Homo sapiens: one gene and its partners. The protein of the gene in region 3 interacts with the protein of the main gene of each other region in a pairwise test. Each region holds a gene or a part of one and is shown on either strand. Other genes may lie near its edges.

Evidence for each region. Proteins that work in one complex are often made in the same cells at the same time.
Region 1: the proteins of SPATA2L (region 3) and ATXN3 interact in binary tests that used the Homo sapiens proteins (3 or more experiments, as listed by UniProt).
Region 2: the proteins of SPATA2L (region 3) and PARK7 interact in binary tests that used the Homo sapiens proteins (3 or more experiments, as listed by UniProt).

What each region holds. Positions count from the first base shown.
Region 1 is NC_000014.9:92,058,052-92,061,582, reverse strand, and holds the end of ATXN3 (ataxin-3 reference isoform), read left to right. Parts: 3' UTR 1-3,031; downstream 3,032-3,531. UniProt on the Homo sapiens protein: Deubiquitinating enzyme involved in protein homeostasis maintenance, transcription, cytoskeleton regulation, myogenesis and degradation of misfolded chaperone substrates.
Region 2 is NC_000001.11:7,957,157-7,964,710, reverse strand, and holds the start of PARK7 (Parkinson disease protein 7), read right to left. Parts: upstream 3,001-7,554; 5' UTR 2,918-3,000; exon of another isoform or gene 2,630-2,917; intron 1,949-2,629; 5' UTR 1,926-1,948; coding exon 1,836-1,925; intron 1-1,835. UniProt on the Homo sapiens protein: Multifunctional protein with controversial molecular function which plays an important role in cell protection against oxidative stress and cell death acting as oxidative stress sensor and redox-sensitive chaperone and protease.
Region 3 is NC_000016.10:89,698,664-89,706,051, reverse strand, and holds the start of SPATA2L (spermatogenesis-associated protein 2-like protein), read left to right. Parts: upstream 1-4,346; 5' UTR 4,347-4,424; exon of another isoform or gene 4,425-4,561; intron 4,562-4,818; 5' UTR 4,819-4,819; coding exon 4,820-5,122; intron 5,123-7,388.

The DNA.
Region 1 (3,531 bases), on a different chromosome or scaffold from region 3:
ATTTAAACTATTGGTATCATTTTTCTAATGTATAATTTGTATTACTGGGATCAAGTATGTACAGTGGTGATGCTAGTAGAAGTTTAAGCCTTGGAAATACCACTTTCATATTTTCAGATGTCATGGATTTAATGAGTAATTTATGTTTTTAAAATTCAGAATAGTTAATCTCTGATCTAAAACCATCAATCTATGTTTTTTACGGTAATCATGTAAATATTTCAGTAATATAAACTGTTTGAAAAGGCTGCTGCAGGTAAACTCTATACTAGGATCTTGGCCAAATAATTTACAATTCACAGAATATTTTATTTAAGGTGGTGCTTTTTTTTTTTGTCCTTAAAACTTGATTTTTCTTAACTTTATTCATGATGCCAAAGTAAATGAGGAAAAAAACTCAAAACCAGTTGAGTATCATTGCAGACAAAACTACCAGTAGTCCATATTGTTTAATATTAAGTTGAATAAAATAAATTTTATTTCAGTCAGAGCCTAAATCACATTTTGATTGTCTGAATTTTTGATACTATTTTTAAAATCATGCTAGTGGCGGCTGGGCGTGGTAGCTCACGCCTGTAATCCCAGCATTTTGGGAGGCCGAAGTGGGTGGATCACGAGGTCGGGAGTTCGAGACCAGCTTGGCCAAAATGGTGAAACCCCATCTGTACTAAAAACTACAAAAATTAGCTGGGCGCGGTGGCAGGTGCCTGTAATCCCAGCTACCTGGGAGTCTGAGGCAGGAGAATTGCTTGAACCCTGGCGACAGAGGATGCAGTGAGCCAAGATGGTGCCACTGTACTCCAGACTGGGCGACAGAGTGAGACTCTGTCTCAAAAAAAAAAAAAAAATCATGCTAGTGCCAAGAGCTACTAAATTCTTAAAACCGGCCCATTGGACCTGTACAGATAAAAAATAGATTCAGTGCATAATCAAAATATGATAATTTTAAAATCTTAAGTAGAAAAATAAATCTTGATGTTTTAAATTCTTACGAGGATTCAATAGTTAATATTGATGATCTCCCGGCTGGGTGCAGTGGCTCACGCCTGTAATCCCAGCAGTTCTGGAGGCTGAGGTGGGCGAATCACTTCAGGCCAGGAGTTCAAGACCAGTCTGGGCAACATGGTGAAACCTCGTTTCTACTAAAAATACAAAAATTAGCCGGGCGTGGTTGCACACACTTGTAATCCCAGCTACTCAGGAGGCTAAGAATCGCATGAGCCTAGGAGGCAGAGGTTGCAGAGTGCCAAGGGCTCACCACTGCATTCCAGCCTGCCCAACAGAGTGAGACACTGTTTCTGAAAAAAAAAAATATATATATATATATATATATGTGTGTATATATATATGTATATATATATGACTTCCTATTAAAAACTTTATCCCAGTCGGGGGCAGTGGCTCACGCCTGTAATCCCAACACTTTGGGAGGCTGAGGCAGGTGGATCACCTGAAGTCCGGAGTTTGAGACCAGCCTGGCCAACATGGTGAAACCCCATCTCTACTAAAAATACAAAACTTAAGCCAGGTATGGTGGCGGGCACCTGTAATCCCAGTTACTTGGGAGGCTGAGGCAGGAGAATCGTTTAAACCCAGGAGGTGGAGGTTGCAGTGAGCTGAGATCGTGCCATTGCACTCTAGCCTGGGCAACAAGAGTAAAACTCCATCTTAAAGGTTTGTTTGTTTTTTTTTAATCCGGAAACGAAGAGGCGTTGGGCCGCTATTTTCTTTTTCTTTCTTTCTTTCTTTCTTTTTTTTTTTTTCTGAGACGGAGTCTAGCTCTGCTGCCCAGGCTGGAGTACAATGACACGATGTTGGCTCACTGCAACCTCCACCTCCTGGGTTCAAGCGATTCTCCTGCCTCAGCCTCCCAAGTACCTGGGATTACAGGCACCTGCCACTACACCTGGCGAATATTTGTTTTTTTTAGTAGAGACGGGCTTTTACCATGTTAGGCTGGTCTCAAACTCCTGACCTCAGGTGATCTGCCTGCCTTGGCCTCCCAAAGTGCTGGGATTACAGGTGCAGGCCACCACACCCGGCCTTGGGCCACTGTTTTCAAAGTGAATTGTTTGTTGTATCGAGTCCTTAAGTATGGATATATATGTGACCCTAATTAAGAACTACCAGATTGGATCAACTAATCATGTCAGCAATGTAAATAACTTTATTTTTCATATTCAAAATAAAAACTTTCTTTTATTTCTGGCCCCTTTATAACCAGCATCTTTTTGCTTTAAAAAATGACCTGGCTTTGTATTTTTTTAGTCTTAAACATAATAAAAATATTTTTGTTCTAATTTGCTTTCATGAGTGAAGATTATTGACATCGTTGGTAAATTCTAGAATTTTGATTTTGTTTTTTAATTTGAAGAAAATCTTTGCTATTATTATTTTTTCCAAGTGGTCTGGCATTTTAAGAATTAGTGCTAATAACGTAACTTCTAAATTTGTCGTAATTGGCATGTTTAATAGCATATCAAAAAACATTTTAAGCCTGTGGATTCATAGACAAAGCAATGAGAAACATTAGTAAAATATAAATGGATATTCCTGATGCATTTAGGAAGCTCTCAATTGTCTCTTGCATAGTTCAAGGAATGTTTTCTGAATTTTTTTAATGCTTTTTTTTTTTTTGAAAGAGGAAAACATACATTTTTAAATGTGATTATCTAATTTTTACAACACTGGGCTATTAGGAATAACTTTTTAAAAATTACTGTTCTGTATAAATATTTGAAATTCAAGTACAGAAAATATCTGAAACAAAAAGCATTGTTGTTTGGCCATGATACAAGTGCACTGTGGCAGTGCCGCTTGCTCAGGACCCAGCCCTGCAGCCCTTCTGTGTGTGCTCCCTCGTTAAGTTCATTTGCTGTTATTACACACACAGGCCTTCCTGTCTGGTCGTTAGAAAAGCCGGGCTTCCAAAGCACTGTTGAACACAGGATTCTGTTGTTAGTGTGGATGTTCAATGAGTTGTATTTTAAATATCAAAGATTATTAAATAAAGATAATGTTTGCTTTTCTATTTCCTTTTGAATTTGTGTTTATTGTTAATTCATAGCTATTCAAAGTGTGATTAGAGCTGGGCTTGGTGGCTTGCATCTACAGTTCCAGCTACCCAGGAGGCAGAAGCAGGAGGATTGCTTGAGCCTAGGAGTTCGAGGCTGCAGTGAGCTATGATCCTGCCACTGAATTCTAGCCTGGGCGACAAAACAGGAAAAAAGTATGGATGGAGGACCAGCAGCATCTGTATCACCTGTGAGTCTTTCAGAAATGCAGAGTTTCAGGCTACACTCGGACCTACTGAATCAGAACTTGCACTTTTTACAAGATCCCCAGGACACTAAAGTATAGAGTGAAGCTTGAGAAGCGCTGTTGTGTGGATTGTTCTTAACCAGCTGCAGTGATGAATATGAATAACGCAGGCCAGCACAGTCCATTGATATTCTATTCCAGCTTACTGCCTGCCAAAAGGTCCATTATTACTGGATCCTCAGTCTTTTCCAAGAGAAGCTAAGAATTCCA
Region 2 (7,554 bases), on a different chromosome or scaffold from region 3:
GGAATTTTCCTACACTGCTGGTGGGACTACAAACTGGGACACTGGAGAGCAACTTGGCAAAACCTAGTCATGCTGACTACAGGCTATCCTTCGGCCTAGTCATTCTACTTTTAGATATATAACCTGGAAAAATTTCCTCACATTTGCACAAAGAAACCTACACAAGAATACGTATTACAGAATTGTAATGCTGTAATTAGAGGAATGGGTAGATTGTGGCATTCAGTGCAACACCAAGCAGCAATTTTAAGTGGATAAACTTAATCGACATGTATCTTCATTTCTGAGAACCAGAGGAGTATAGGGTTAACAGACTCTGGGGCCAGGCTGCCTGGGTCTGAGTTCTGGCTTTTGTACTTACTACGTGATGTGGGTACATTATTTATGTCTCTGTGCCTCAGTTTCTTCAACTGTAAAATGAGGATGGTGATATCTAACTCACGACATTGTTGTAAGGTTTATCGGCACTTAGAATGCTGCCTGGCACAGAGTTAGTTCTACTTCACTTCACTGTTCACTATTTTTAGATAGAGAGAGATAATATATAAACACGCAAAATGAGAACCACGGTCAAATGCTACCTTAAAGACATGCGTGGGGGCGGGTGCAGTAGCTCACATCTGTAATCACAGCACTTTGGGAGGCCGAGGTGGGTGGATCACGAGGTCAAGAGTTCAAGACCAGCCTGGCCAAGATGGTGAAACCCCATCTACTAAAAATACAAAAAATTAGCCAGGCATGGTGGTGCGCACCTGTAATCCCAGCTACTTGGGAGGCTGAGGCAGAGAACTGCTTGAACCCAGGAGGCAGAAGTTGCAGTGAGCTGAGGTCACACCACTGCACTCCAGCCTGGGTGACAGAGCAAGACTCTGTCTTAAAAAAAAAAAAAAAGACACACATGCATGGATACACAAGAGTGCGAGGATAGCACTTATCTTTAAGGAAGGAAGAAGGGGCATAGGATTGGAGAAATTTACAAAGGGGGCTTCAAATGTATTTCTTTGAAGCATCTGCTCTTTAAGAAACGAGTCTGAGGGGCCGGGCATGGTGGCTCCTGCCTGTAATCCCAGCACTGTAAAAGGCTAAGGCGGGCGGGTCACTTGAAGCCAGGAGTTCGAGACCAACCTGGCCAACATGGTGAAACCCCATCTGTACTAAAAATACAATTAGCCGGGCGTGGTGGCGGACACCTGTAATCCCAGCTGAGGGTGAGGCAGGAGAATCTCTTGAACCCGGGAGGCAGAGGTTGCAGCGAGCAGAGATCACACCACTGCGTTCCAGGCTGAGCGACACAGAGAGACACCATCTCAAAAAAAAAAAAAAAGAAGAAAAAAGAAATGGGTCTAAGGACAGTGCAGTGGCTCACGCCTGTAGTCCTAACACTTTGGGAGGCCTGAGGCGGGTGGACAACTTGAGCTCAGGAGTTGGAGAGCAGCCTGGGCAACATGGCAAAACCCTGTCTCTACAAAACATACAAAAATTAGCCAGGTGTGGTGGCACGCATCTGTAGTCTCAGCTATTTGGGAGGCTGAGGTGGGAAGATGGTTTGGGCCCAGGAGGCAGAGACCGAAATGAGCCAAGATCCTGCCATCGCACTCCAGCCTGGACGACAGAGCTCAAAACAAAAGAGAAATGGGTCTGAAGGAAATATGGCAAGACATTAACAAGCGTTAAATGTGAGCAGTGGATCAACAGGTATTTATTCTTATGTCATCTCTGAAATTTTGTGTATATTTGAAATATTTCATAGAGCACTTTGAATATTTTATTCAAAATGATTTAAAAATCCAAAAACATTTAAAACAGGAATGGCTAAAAATCGATGTGGGACTTACCCCAGCTCGCCTCATGACATCTACAGGGATGACCGTCTCCATTTCCTCTGCTCCTTTAGCCAGGATGACCAGAGCTCTTTTGGAAGCCATTTTTATGTTATATGTTTACAAGCCTTAAAAAAAAAAAAAAAAAAAGATTTCAAAAAACTTTCATTGCAACCCTGAGATACCCCAAAATTTAAAGTTTAGGAGCATTTTCAAGCAGAGTAAGTACTTCCTAGGGAAACGGTTTTCATAGACAACTGAATACGAAAAAAGCAGCAGTTTAGTTATCTTAACGTTGATTTGTATAGCAGTTTTAATTGCTCTGAGATGAAAACATAATGAGGGTGCTAAAAGGTGTAGTATTGCTTAGATTTTCTTCTACCATGTTCTCTTAAATCCAACTTTAATAGTATGTTGCAAATGGGTTTTTTAAAAATACAAGTACGTGGGTCTCCTGCATTTCACACAATGCGGGGAAACAGTCTTTTTTGAAGCACTGTTTCAGAGAAACGACTAAACTGAATTTCATGGGCAAAAATTTAAATGTGGTCTTTCGCAATTAACTTGTAATTTTTTGGAGGGGATTTTTGTTTTCTTAGTTATAACTGTACTAAAAAATTGTGTGTGGGGGTCAACAGTGTTAAATGTCTGAACACTTTTTTTAATGACTGAGAAAGATGGAAATCCCCTCACTGAAGTCAACCCAACTACATCTGTCTCTCTGCGCGGAGTTCTCACTGCCAACGACAGCAGCTCAACGAGGTTCCGAATTTTTTTTAGCCTATTTACAGATTATCTGGAGGGTTTACCGTCCACGCAAAACAGAGTTTAATAAAACGGCTAGCCAGTTCCATGCCGGCGAGAGGTTAGGCAGAAGATTCTGGACGCTTCAGCGTTGCCACCACGCTGGCGGTCAGTCAAATCCAACGCCAGCGACAGGGCCCGACTGGGAGGCCGGAAGCGAGGGCGGCCCCGACCCAGGCCCCGCGCCGGTTCTGAGCCAGCGGGACACCGTCCAGCACAGGGACACCGTCCAGCACCCCCACGCCGCCCAGCGCCACGGCCCACACATGCGCCGCGCCCCCGCTGGCGCTGACCTGCACCCCGCGCCTCTTCCTGCGGACGCGGCGCCCCGGCCCGTTGGGTACCACTCACCCCACACCAGGCTGAAAATGAACGCACGCCAGCACGCACGCGCGCCGTCCGGCCTCCCTCAGCCCCACACTGCGCAGACTCACGCCGCCTTGGCCTCACGCTGCGTCACGTCCGGCCGAGTCTACCTCGGACTGAGGCGGGGGTGGCACCGGGGAGTTTCTAGCTGGACAGCCCTGGGTGAGGCGGCTCGGTCCCACATGGTACCCCCCACGAATGGCACAGTCCGGCCTGCCCCGGCGCCCGCGGGGCTTAACAGTCTCTACCGCCACCCTCCGTGAGGAGCCGGTCTCTGGAACTGCCGAGGGACTGGGGTTGTCAGAGGGGTTCCTTAGTTCGCGCTCCGTGCACGCCTGCTCCCTTTGCGTTGTTCCTTTTCTGGCGCGCCTTCCCGTTTCGCCTCTGGTCTGTTAGGACTCTGGTCCAGGCCTCCCGGACCTCTCCCCCACGCCTGGTCTCCCGATCTCGGGCGACTCTGCCGCATTTATTCACACCCGGATGTCTCAGGGGTGTGAGTTTTTTTCTCAGCATTGTTTGTTTTCTTTAACGATCCTGATGCTGCTGCACCCACAGGACTAGAGCAGTGCTGCGCACATAAGTCTAATAAGTACCAAGTTGGTCAGATGTATTTACATCATAATCTCAAGTTGTATTTATTGATATGTAAGAGACGTATGTGTTTTCTGGGTACATGTGGTATTTTGATACTTTCATATAATGTGTAATGATTAAATCAGGGTAAATGAGATCTCTATCACCTTAAACATTTGTCTTTATACTGGGAACATTCCAGTTACTCTCTTCAATAATAACATTTTAAAATATACAACAGATTACTGTTAACTATAGTCACCCTACAGAACTCTGCCAACGCTAGGTCTTATTCCCTCTTAAGGAGAGCACAGATCACCTGGTGACCATCAAGCAGGCCCCTTATCTGAGGAATTTAGAAGTAATTAGATATCCCTATTATCTAAAGTTGGCACCTGGTACCAGGTTAAATCAAAGGAAATAGTTAAAGCCCAAAATTCTTGAATGAGCTTAGAAGGATCCTGGCTAAATGAACGCAACTTGGATTGAATTTGCAAAAAATGAGACATTCGAAAAGGGACATGAAAAATCCACCGCGGCATGCTCAGTTCTCTCTTGCTGAGGCTGCACTCTTCTGCAGCGTTCTAATAAAACTTTCCTTTTTCAAACCTATATTGTTGTCGATAAATTCTTCTTACCAACCAGCAAGTCGACCACTTTCTGATGCTGGGGCTCTTGACACCTTGCCCAGCACTTCTACCAATTTTTGTACCTATTAATCACCCTGTTCATCCCCTTCTCCTGGCTACCCTTCCTGGCCTCTGGTAACCACCAACTTATCTTCATGATATCCACTTTTCAACTTCCCATTTATGAGTGAAATCATGTGATGCTTGTCTTTCTTTGCCTGGCTTGTTTCACTTAACATAATGACCTCCAGTTCCATCAATGTTGTTGCAAATAGGATTTTATTATTTTTTATGGCTGAATAGTATTCATTGTGTATATTTACATTTTATTTATCCAGTCATCCATTGATGAACATTTTGGTTGATTCCATATTTTGACTGTTGTGAACAGTGCTACAATAAGCATAGGAGTGCAAATATCTCTTTGATATATTGATTTTCTTTCTTTTTTTTTTTTTTTGAGACTCCATCTTGCTCTGTCGCCTAGCCTGAAGTGCAGTGGCACCATCTTGGCTCACTGCAACCTCTGCCTCTGTGTTGAAACAATTCTCGTGCCTCAGTCTTTCGAGTAGCTGAGACTACAGGTGTGTGCCACCATGCCTGGCTAATTTTTGTATTTTTAGTAGAGACAGGGTTTTACTATGTTGGCCAGGCTGGTCTTGAACTCCTGACCCCAAGTGATCTGCCTGCCTCGGCCTCCCAAAGTGCTGGGATTATAGGCGTGAGCTACCGTGCCTGGCCCTTCCTTTCTTTTTGGTATATACCGGTAGTGGGATTGCTGGATCATATGGTAGTTATGATTCCAGAACTTATGATTTCTCAGAAGTTAATCTTCTGAGGATTCCATATTGTTTTCCATAGTGGCTGCACTAATTGAGATGCTCGCCAACAGTGTATGAGGTTCCTTCTTCACATCCATCTCAGCATGTTATTCCCTTTTTGATAAAGGCCATTTTAACTGGGATGAGATGATATCTTACTGTCTTTATTTGCATTTCTCTGATTAGTGACATTGAGCCCTTTTTCATATCTCTTGGCCATTTGTATCTCTTCAGAAATGTCTATTCAGATCTTTTGCCCACTTTTAAATCTGATTGTTTTCTTGCTATTGAGCTCCTAATATATTCTAGTCATTAGTCCCTCATCAAATGGATAGTTTGCAAATATTTTCTCCCATTCTGTGTGTTGTCTCTTTGCTTTGTTGTTTCCTTTGCTGTGCATATACTTTTTAGTTTGATGTAATTCCATTTGTCTGTTTTTGCTTTTGTTGTCTGTGCTTTGAGGTCTTTGCCCAGATCAATACCCTGGAACATTTCCCCAGTGTTTTCTTTCTTTTCTTTTCTTTTTTTTTTTTTTTTGAGATGGAGTCTCGCTCAGCCGCCTAGGCTGGAGTGCAGTGGCGCAATCTTGGCTCACTGCAACCACTGTCTCCTGGGTTCAAGCGATTCTCTGTCTCAGCCTCCCGAGTATCTGGGATTACAGGCACCCTCCATCATGCCTGTCTAATTTTTGTATTTTAGTCCAGACAGGGATTCACCATGTTTCCCAGGCTGGTCTCGAACTCCTAACCTCAGGTGATCCACTTGCCTCAGCCTCCCAAAGTGCTGGGATTACAGGTGTGAGCCACCGTGCCTGGCCCCCCCCCCCCCAGTGTTTTCTTCTAGTAATTTCTTTTCTTTTCTTTTTTTTTTTTTTTTGAGACAGAGTCTCGCTCTGTTGCCCAGGCTGGAGTGCAATGGTGCAATCTCAGCTCATTGCAACCTCCGCCTCCCAGGTTCAAGCAATTCTCCCACCTCAGCCTCTAGAGTAGCTGGGATTGCAGGCACCTGCCATCATGCCTGGCTAATTTTTGTATTTTTAGTAGAGATGAGCTTTCACCATGTTGGCCAGGCTAGTCTCAAACTCCTGACCTCAAGTGATCTGCCCACCTCGGCCTCCCACAGTGCTGGGATTACAGGTGTGAGCCACAGCACCTGGCCTAAATACATCAGTGTTTTTAAGGTTTCAATTTAGATATTAAAATCGCGTTTCTGGCCAGGCGCGGTGGTGCGTGCCTGTAATCCCAGCACTTTGGGAGGCCAAGGTGGGCAGATCACGAGGTCAAGAGATCGAGACCATCCTGGCCAACATGGTGAAACCCGGTCTCTACTAAAAATACAAAAATTAGCTGGGCATGGTGGCTTGCACCTGTAGTCCCAATTACTCGGGAGGCTGAAGCAGGGGAATTGCTTGAACCTGGGAGGCGGAGGCTGAAGTGAGCTGAGATCGCACCACTACACTCCAGCCTGGGTGACAGAGCGAGACTCTTGTCTCAAAAAAAAAAAAAAAATCACGTTTATTTTCTTTGTTTTGTTTTTGTTTTTGTTTTGAGACAGAGTCTTGCTCTGTCATCCAGGCTGGCGTGTAGTGGCACCATCTCGGCTCACTGCAACCTCTGTCTCCCAGGTTCAAGCAATTCTCGTACCTCAGTCTCCCGAGTAGCTGGGACTACAGGCGTGCACCATCATGCCCAACTAATTTTTGTATTTTTATTAGAGACGGGGTTTCACCATGTTGGCCAAACTGGTCTCAAACTCCTGACCTCAAGTGATCTGCCCACCTCGGCCTCCCAAAGTGCTGGGATTACAGTTGTGAGCCACTGCACCTGGCCACATTTATTTCAAGAAATAAATTTTTTGTTAGTTTACAAAGCACTTTGGTATATTTCATGTGATTCTTACAATGATGGTGAGTGTGTTATTTTATTTAATTTTAAAAATTGGAGCTGTGCGGGGTGTCTCATCCCAACACTCTGGGAGGCCGAGGCGGGAGGATTGTTTGAGCCCAGGAGTTGGGGACCAGCCTGGACAACATGGCAAGACCCTGTCTCTACAAAAAATTTTAAAAATTACACGCCTATGGGTCCCAGCTACTTGAGAGGCTGACAGCGCAGCGGGGGAATCACTTGAGCCCAGGAGGTCAAGGCTGCAGTGGGTCATGATCTCATGCCACTGCACTCCAGGCTGGATGACAGAGTGAGACTGTGTCTCTAAAAAAAAAAAAAAAAAATGTGAATAATTGATGAACACTGAACTTGTGCAAAAGTCTGAAATGTCTTTAATCATATGACATTTAAGAAGAAACTTTTAGGAGTTCTGGAATGACTTCACTTTTGGCTATTTGCAAAGGAAGCAGCTGTGAAGGAGTGTGGAAAACAGGAATGACAGAGAAAGAGGAAAGACAAGTGGTCAGATGTGTGCTTCTAGAACCAAGGAGGGATACAGTTAGATGGAAGGAAAACCAAAAGAAGACAGGCTTTTTTGATCCAGTCTGCGTGGTAAACTTTTTTTTTGAGTCTCTCTGTCACCCAGGCTGGAGTGTGG
Region 3 (7,388 bases):
CGGGCGCGGTGGCTCACGCCTGTAATCCCAGCACTTTGGGAGGCCGAGGTGGGCGGATCACGAGGTCAGGAGATCAAGACCATCCTGGCTAACACGGTGAAACCCCGTCTCTACTAAAAATACAAAAAATCAGCCGGGCGTGGTGGCCCGCACCTGTAGTCCCAGCTACTCGGGAGGCTGAGGCGGGAGAATGGCGTGAACCTGAGAGGCAGAGGTTGCAGTGAGCTGAGATCGTGCCACTGCACTCCAGCCTGGACGACAGAGAGAAACTCCGTCTCAAAAAATAAAAATAAAATAAAAAGTAATGGCTGGGCGCAGTGGCTCATGCCTGTAACCCCAGCGGTTTGGGAAGCCGAGGCGGACGGCTCTTTTGAGGTCAGGAGTTCGAGACCAGCCCGGCCAACATGGCGAAACCCCGTCTCTACTAAAAATACATAAATTAGCTGAGCGTGGTGGCGGTAGTCCCAGTTACTCAGGAGGCTGAGGCCGGAGAATTGTTTGAACCTGAGAGGCAGAGGCTGCAGTGAGCCGAGATCACGCCATTGTACTCCAGCCTGAGCACAGAGCGAGACTCCATCTAAAAAAAAATAAAAATAAAACTATTCTGCATAAGCAGTGTCCAAATCATAACAAAAATCAAATGAAAAGTAAACAAGATGTAACCTTATATCCATTGGACCGGAGAAGATGAGGAAGCTGGACGATGCTGAGTACAGGAGGGGGAGGGAGCTCACGCACACTGTGGGGTGGACACGGCAGTGGCCCCAGGGGACCAGGTGCAGTCCTGGAGTCCAGGTAAGTGTGGACGGAACCTCCGACCTGGCAAGGCTGCTGCCGGTTTTAGAGGATGTATATGCAGTGGAGGCAATGGAGTGTCTGTCCCGGGAGGGCAGGGAAGGACGGAGAATCCACACGGCAGCTCATGGAGTGTCCATCCCCGGGCAGGAAGGGAGGGAGCCGTGAATGTGTACAGCCCACGTAGCCACCGCTGCCTAACAAACTACCCCAACTCAGGGGCTTAAATACTCAAGACGCCAGGCATGGTGGTTCACACCTGGAATCCCAGCACTTCGGAAGGCTGAGGCGGGGGGATCACTTGAGCCCAGGAGTTTGAGACCAGCCTGGGCAACATAGTAAGGCCCCCCTCTCTACTAAAAAGTTAAAAATTAGGCTGGGCACCGTGGCTCACGCCTGCAATCCCAGCACTGTGGGAGGCCGAGGTAGGTGGATCACCTGAGGTCAGGAGTTTGAGACCAGCCTGGCCAACATAGTGAAGCCCTGTCTCTGCTGAAAATACAAAAAGTACAAAAATCAGCCAGATGGCTCCTCAGCATCATGGGAGGCTGTTTCTAGGTGGTAACCCAATGACCAGGGGTTGGATTCATCCGAAGAGCTGTCTGCTGTCTATGGTTGGTGCCAGCTGTCGGCTGGGACCTCATTCAGGGCTGTCGGAACGACGACGTGAGGACTGGATGTGTTGCCAGGGGCTGCCAAAACGACCACAAAATGGGTGGCTTACAGCAACAGAAATGTTCTCTCTCACCATCTTGCAGGCCTGAAGTCAAAATCAAGCTGTCAGCAGGGCTGACTCCCTCTGGAGGCTTTAGGGTAGAATTCTGTTTGCCTCCAGTTTCTGGTGGCTCTAACACAGCTGTGTTACCTTCGCTCACGGCACCCTCGTTCCACTCTGCCTCCGTCTTTAAGCGGTCTTCTCTCCTGTGCGTTCATATCTAAGTTTCTCTCTCCTCATAAGGACAGCAGTCATACTGGATTGAGGGCCCATGCCAACCCAGAACAACCTCATCCTTTTTTTTTTTTTTTTTTTGAGATAGAGTCTTGCTCTGTGGCCCAGGCTGGAGTGCAGTGGCGCGATCCCGGCTCACTGCAAGCTCCGCCTCCTGGGTTGACGCCATTCTCCTGCCTCAGTCTCCCGAGTAGCTGGGACTACAGATGCCCGCCACCACGCCCAGCTAATTTTTTGTATTTTTTAGTAGAGATGGGGTTTCAGTGTGTTAGCCAGGATGGTCTCGATCTCCTGAGTTCGTGATCCACCTGCCTCGGTCTTCCAGAGTGCTGGGATTACAGGCGTGAGCCACTGCGCTCGGCCCAGAACAAACTCATCTTGATTTTTGTCTGGAAAAACTATTTCCAAAAAAGTCCCAAGAATAGGCTGCAGGTGAATGTGAGTCGCAGGTCGAAGTTGCAGGCCAAAAGCTCTGCACACGGCCGTGGCCTTCTCACTCTAGTGGCTGGGTTCTGAGGGTGTGTTAGTCCGTCCCCATGCTGCTGTAAATAGCTGCCTGAGGCTGGATAATTTATAAAGAAAAGACGTTTAATTGACTCACAGTTCCGCATGGCTGGGGAAGGCCTCAGCAAACTCACAATCATGGCAGAAGGCGTCTCCTCACAGGGCGACAGGAGCGAGAATGAGCACTGAACAAAGGGGAGAACCCCTTATAAAACCATCGGATCTCGTGGAATTCACTATCACGAGAACAGCATGGAGGAAGCTGCCCCCAAGATTTAATTATCTCCACCTGGTCCTGCTCCAGACCTGTGGGATTACAATTCAAGATGAGATTTTGGGTGTGGATACAGAACCAAACCATGTCAGAGGCCAAGGATCTCAAGACAAGGCCAGGGTATGGCATGTTTATGATTTAGCCTTGGAATTCATTCCACATCAGTTCTATTCCATGGGTTGAGGCAGGTGCAAAAACCCACCCAGGCCTATGGGAGGAGAGCTAGGCCCACTGCTGGATGGATGGACTGGTGTTGCCAAATTCAGTGAGGACAAAGGCAGAACAGTTACCTCCACCCTCCTCCGCATCAGAAGAAGAATAAAGATGAGACTTACGAAGTTAGCTGTCCTGAGGACTGGTGTGGACCCATGGTGGCACTGGGCACCAAGAGTGAGTTCAGTAAACAGTAAGTAAAAGAGCTCCCTGTCCAGAGGTGGCCACCTAGATAACTCAGGGAGATCCACCGACTGCATCACGATTTTTTTTTCCAGACATTCTCGCTCTGTCACCCAGGCTGGAGTGCAGTGGCACGATCTTAGCTCACTGCAACCGCAACCTCTGCCTCCCAGGTTCAAGTAATTCTCCTGCCTCAGCCTCCCAAGTAGCTGGGCTTACAGACATGTGCCACCACGCCCGGCTAACTTTCGTATTTTTAATAGAGACGGGGTTTCACCATGTTGGCCAGGCTGGTCTTGAACTCCTGACTTCAGGTGATCCGCCCGCCTCGGCCTCTCAAAGTGCTGGGATTACAGGCGTGAGCCACCGCACCCGGTCATGATCACTATTTCTAAGATGCCAGCAGGGAACTTCCAGGTAAAAAATCTAAGAAAAAGGGGGGACCTCGCCGCCCAGGCCCAGGGAAAGTTTCAACAAACTTGGGCCTTGGTTTTGGTGGCCTGGAGAGATGAGGGACACAGACGTGAAGTAGCAAAGCCTGCCCAAAGCGGGGGTGTGGGGTAGGGGTGGGTTTCGGCTGGGACCTCCAAGGGTCTCCCTCATCCTCCTCTACTTCTGGGCAATGCGAGAAAGTGGCTGTAGCACAGAACAGAGGAACCCGAGCGAAGAAAACGTCCCCGGGAAGTCGTGGCCCAGATTTAGCCTGGGTGGATCCGCAGCCCAGGTCAGCTTTTAGCCTAGAGAGGGGGGCGGCTTCGCCCTGCCTCAGAGACCCGCCCAGACGATGCTCTCAAGGGCTGCAGATGGCAAGTGCAGGAGGCCGGGAAGCGGAGCCAGCATAAACAGAATCTGAGGTCCCCGCATCCACCTGAGGCTGCTGTTTCAGACGAGGCTGAAAGGCTTGTCCTTCCGCCCACCTTCCGTGCCGCGGGCCCCTCCCTCAAGGGGATGGCCCCGCCCCACAGGGGAGGCCCGCCCCCGGATCCGGCCAATCCCCGCCAGGTAATGCAGGTGGCCCCGCCCCGCAGGAAAGGCTCTTCCCAGGATCCAGCCAATCCCCGCCAGGTAATGCCGGTGGCCCCACCCCCCAGGGGACGAGCCCGCGCACCTGCTTCCCCGCGGCCGGGTCGCCTGGGGCTGGGTCCCTGTCTCGTGGGGAGGAGCGGCCCAGGCACAACGTTCCCTGAGCGCCTGCCATGAGCCCGCAGCCCTCGGCCCAGCGGCGTCGTGAACGATACCGGTCCCGCGAGGAGACGGGCGACGCGGTGACAGGAGGCTCTCGGGGTGCCTCGCGCAGGGGCTCGGCCGGGCTGACACCTCCTCCTCCCCTTTCACCAGGCCCCGCCCCTCCTAAATTATTCGGAGGCGGGGCCTGCGCCAAGCCCCGCCCCGCCCCCAGCGTCACGGCCGCGGACCCCGGGCGGAGCCGACTCCCGGCGGAAGCGCGCGGCGCGCGGGGAGGCCCGAACTGATCCGCGGCGGCCGGAGACCGCTGGGGACAGACAGGTAGCGCCGTCACCCGCGGGATCCGCAGCTCCATCTGCCGGGCGAAGGGGCTCTGGTCGGGAGAGGGCTCAGCGGGCGGAAGCGCGTCTCTAGAGAAGGGTGCGGTCGATAACCGGGGGCGCCCCTGGAAGGCCGAGGTACCCAGGCTGGAGGGAGGGGCTGGAGGTGCGGGGGCGCTCAACTGGAGGGGCCTGGATCGCTGGGTGGGCGGGCAGCTGATGGGGCCGAGGTCTCCAGCGTAGGGGGTGCCGAAGATACCGGGGGCGCCCAGCCGCTGGGGGCGGGGTCTCCAGGCTCGAGGGGTCCTGGGGACGCTGGGTGAGGGTTCGGGGAGAGCGCGGCGGGCTGGGCGCGGCCTTAGGTCCCTGACCCCCCCGACCCCCGTCCGCCGCAGGATGGGCAGCAGCTCGCTGTCCGAGGACTACCGCCAGTGCCTGGAGCGCGAGCTGCGACGGGGCCGCGCGGGCGTGTGCGGGGACCCCTCGCTGCGCGCGGTGCTCTGGCAGATCCTGGTGGAGGACTTCGACCTGCACGGGGCGCTGCAGGACGACGCGCTGGCTCTGCTCACCGACGGGCTGTGGGGCCGCGCCGACCTGGCGCCCGCGCTACGCGGCCTGGCTCGCGCCTTCGAGCTTCTGGAGCTCGCCGCGGTGCACCTGTACCTGCTGCCCTGGAGGAAGGAGTTCACCACCATCAAGGTAGGCGCCAGGCCAGGAGGAGCGCGCCCCTCGTCCTGGCCTGCGGGTCGCGGGGCCGCCGACCATGGGGGACCACGCCTTTCGAGAGAGAGGGGCTTCAAGTGTCCTCAGTGCCTGGTGGGCTCCTCAAGGCTCCGAGCGCTGAGGGGTCGTGGGCGTGTGGGGGCACCCACTCCTAGGGCTGAGAACATGGGGTGGGCGAGGGCAGGCTTGGGTGCTGCCTACGGGGTCCTGCCCTGAGAGCTTGCGTCAGTGTCTTCCCTAAGAGGCCTCGCGGCCCCAGTTGCCATGGAAATCTTAGGACGGGGGCACAGAAGGGACTTGAGTTCCCATGGTCATCCTAATTCCTCCAGGTTATGGGCCAATCCCATTTGCAGAGGAGGCCGCCGAGGCTGGGAGGACTGCAGATGGGTGCATCCCTGTGAAGTCTCAGGGCTGGGCTCAGACCTAGTGAACTCCACGGCCTGGGGCGGGAGGCTGTGCCCAGGGCTGGCCTGGCCTCTCCAGGTGAGCTCCTGGCGGCAGGAGGGGGCAGGGCCGCCGGGAGCTCTGAGCTAATTCGGAAGAGTAGGAAGCCGATGACGTCACTGGGCACGTGGGCGAGCTACGCCTCCGCCGGTTGCCATGGCAGCGGCAGTCTCTCCGCGGCTCCCCGGGGACACCTGCTGGTCGGAGGCGCCAGGACTTTCATTCATGAGAGAGGACGGACAGGCCCGCCCTTGAGGCCTCCCAGGGGGCGGGGCGGGGGAATAACCGGCTTCAGTGCCGGACAGCCCTGGTTTGGACTTAGTTCTGCTGCTTCCTGGCCGCGAGGACTTGGCCAAATTAGCTAATCTCTGTCAGCCCCTTTCCTCCTGAGACAGCGACACGGGAACAGTCCAGTTCATGGGGCCAGAGGAATGAATCAAAGCCCCGAGCTCAGTGCTGCAGGCACTGGGCGCTCCACACGTGGGCCGTGTCCAGGCATTAGATGCTAGGAGTCCCGGAGTTAGGGAATTTGAGAGTCAGGAGACGCTCGCAGTGATTGTCCTGAGCTCCTTTAGTTCTTCACCTAAGTGTAGGCTAGAAAGCACTCAGCCAGGCCGGGCGCGGTGGCTCACGCCTGTAATCCCAGCTCTTTGGGAGGCCGAGGTGGGCAGATCACGAGGTCAGGAGATTGACACCAGCCTAACCAACATGGTGAAACCCCGTCTCTATTAAAAAATACAAAAATGAGCTGGGTGTGGTGGCACGCGCCTGTAATCCCAGCTACTCAGGAGGCTGAGGGAGGAGAATCACTTGAACCTGGGAGGTGGAGGTTGTAGTGAGCAGAGATCGAGCCACTGCACTCCATCCTGGTGACAGAGTGAGACTCCGTCTCAAAAAAAAAAAAAAAAGAGCACTCACCCTTCTACCGTCCCACGGCTGTCAGCCCAGTGCATGGACAGCCTCTGGAGAGCGCTGAAAACAGACGTGTCACCCCCATGGTGGAATACTACACAGCAGGGGGAATGAACGTTACAGCTTCTGTCCTTGTCTGCAAGACTGTAGTGGAAAAAAACAAAGTTCAGAACAACACGTTTAAGAGGCTACCTGTCTAGCTTTGGTTAGAGACCTTACAAAGAGGTGAAAAAAAAGGGGGGACTACCTCATACGAGGAGCAAACGAAATCTGTATTTGGGTTTGCAAAACAAACACCTGGGCAAGTACATTCAAAACTAATTAGATGAGGCCATCTCCAGGGGTGAAGGGAGCGGTGGGACAGAAGACAGTGGAATTTCTCAGTACAGGGGCTCTTCATTTTGTTCTGATTTGTGAGCTAGGTTAATGTATTCATTGTTTTTTCCATTAAATTTAAGAAATTCGGCCAGGTGCGGTGGCTCACACCTGTAATCCCAGCACTTCGGGAGGCCAAGGTGGGTGGATCATGAGGTCAAGGGATCAAGACCTTCCTGGTCAACATGGTGAAACCCCGTCTCTACTAAATATACAAAAATTAGTGGGGCGTGGTGGTGCGCACCTGTAATCCCAGCTACTCAGGAGGCTGAGGCAGGAAGATCGCTTGAACCCGGGAGGAGGAGGTTGTAGTGAGCCGAGATCGTGCCACTGTACTCCAGACAGAGCGAGACTCTGTCTCAAAAAAGAAAAAAAAAAAAAAATTCTAGGCCGGGCACAGTGGCTCACGCTTGTAATCCCAGCACTTTGGGAGCTCAAGGCAGGCGGATCACTTGAGGTCAGGAGTTTGAGACCAGCATGGCCAACATGGTGAAACCCTGTCTCTACTAAA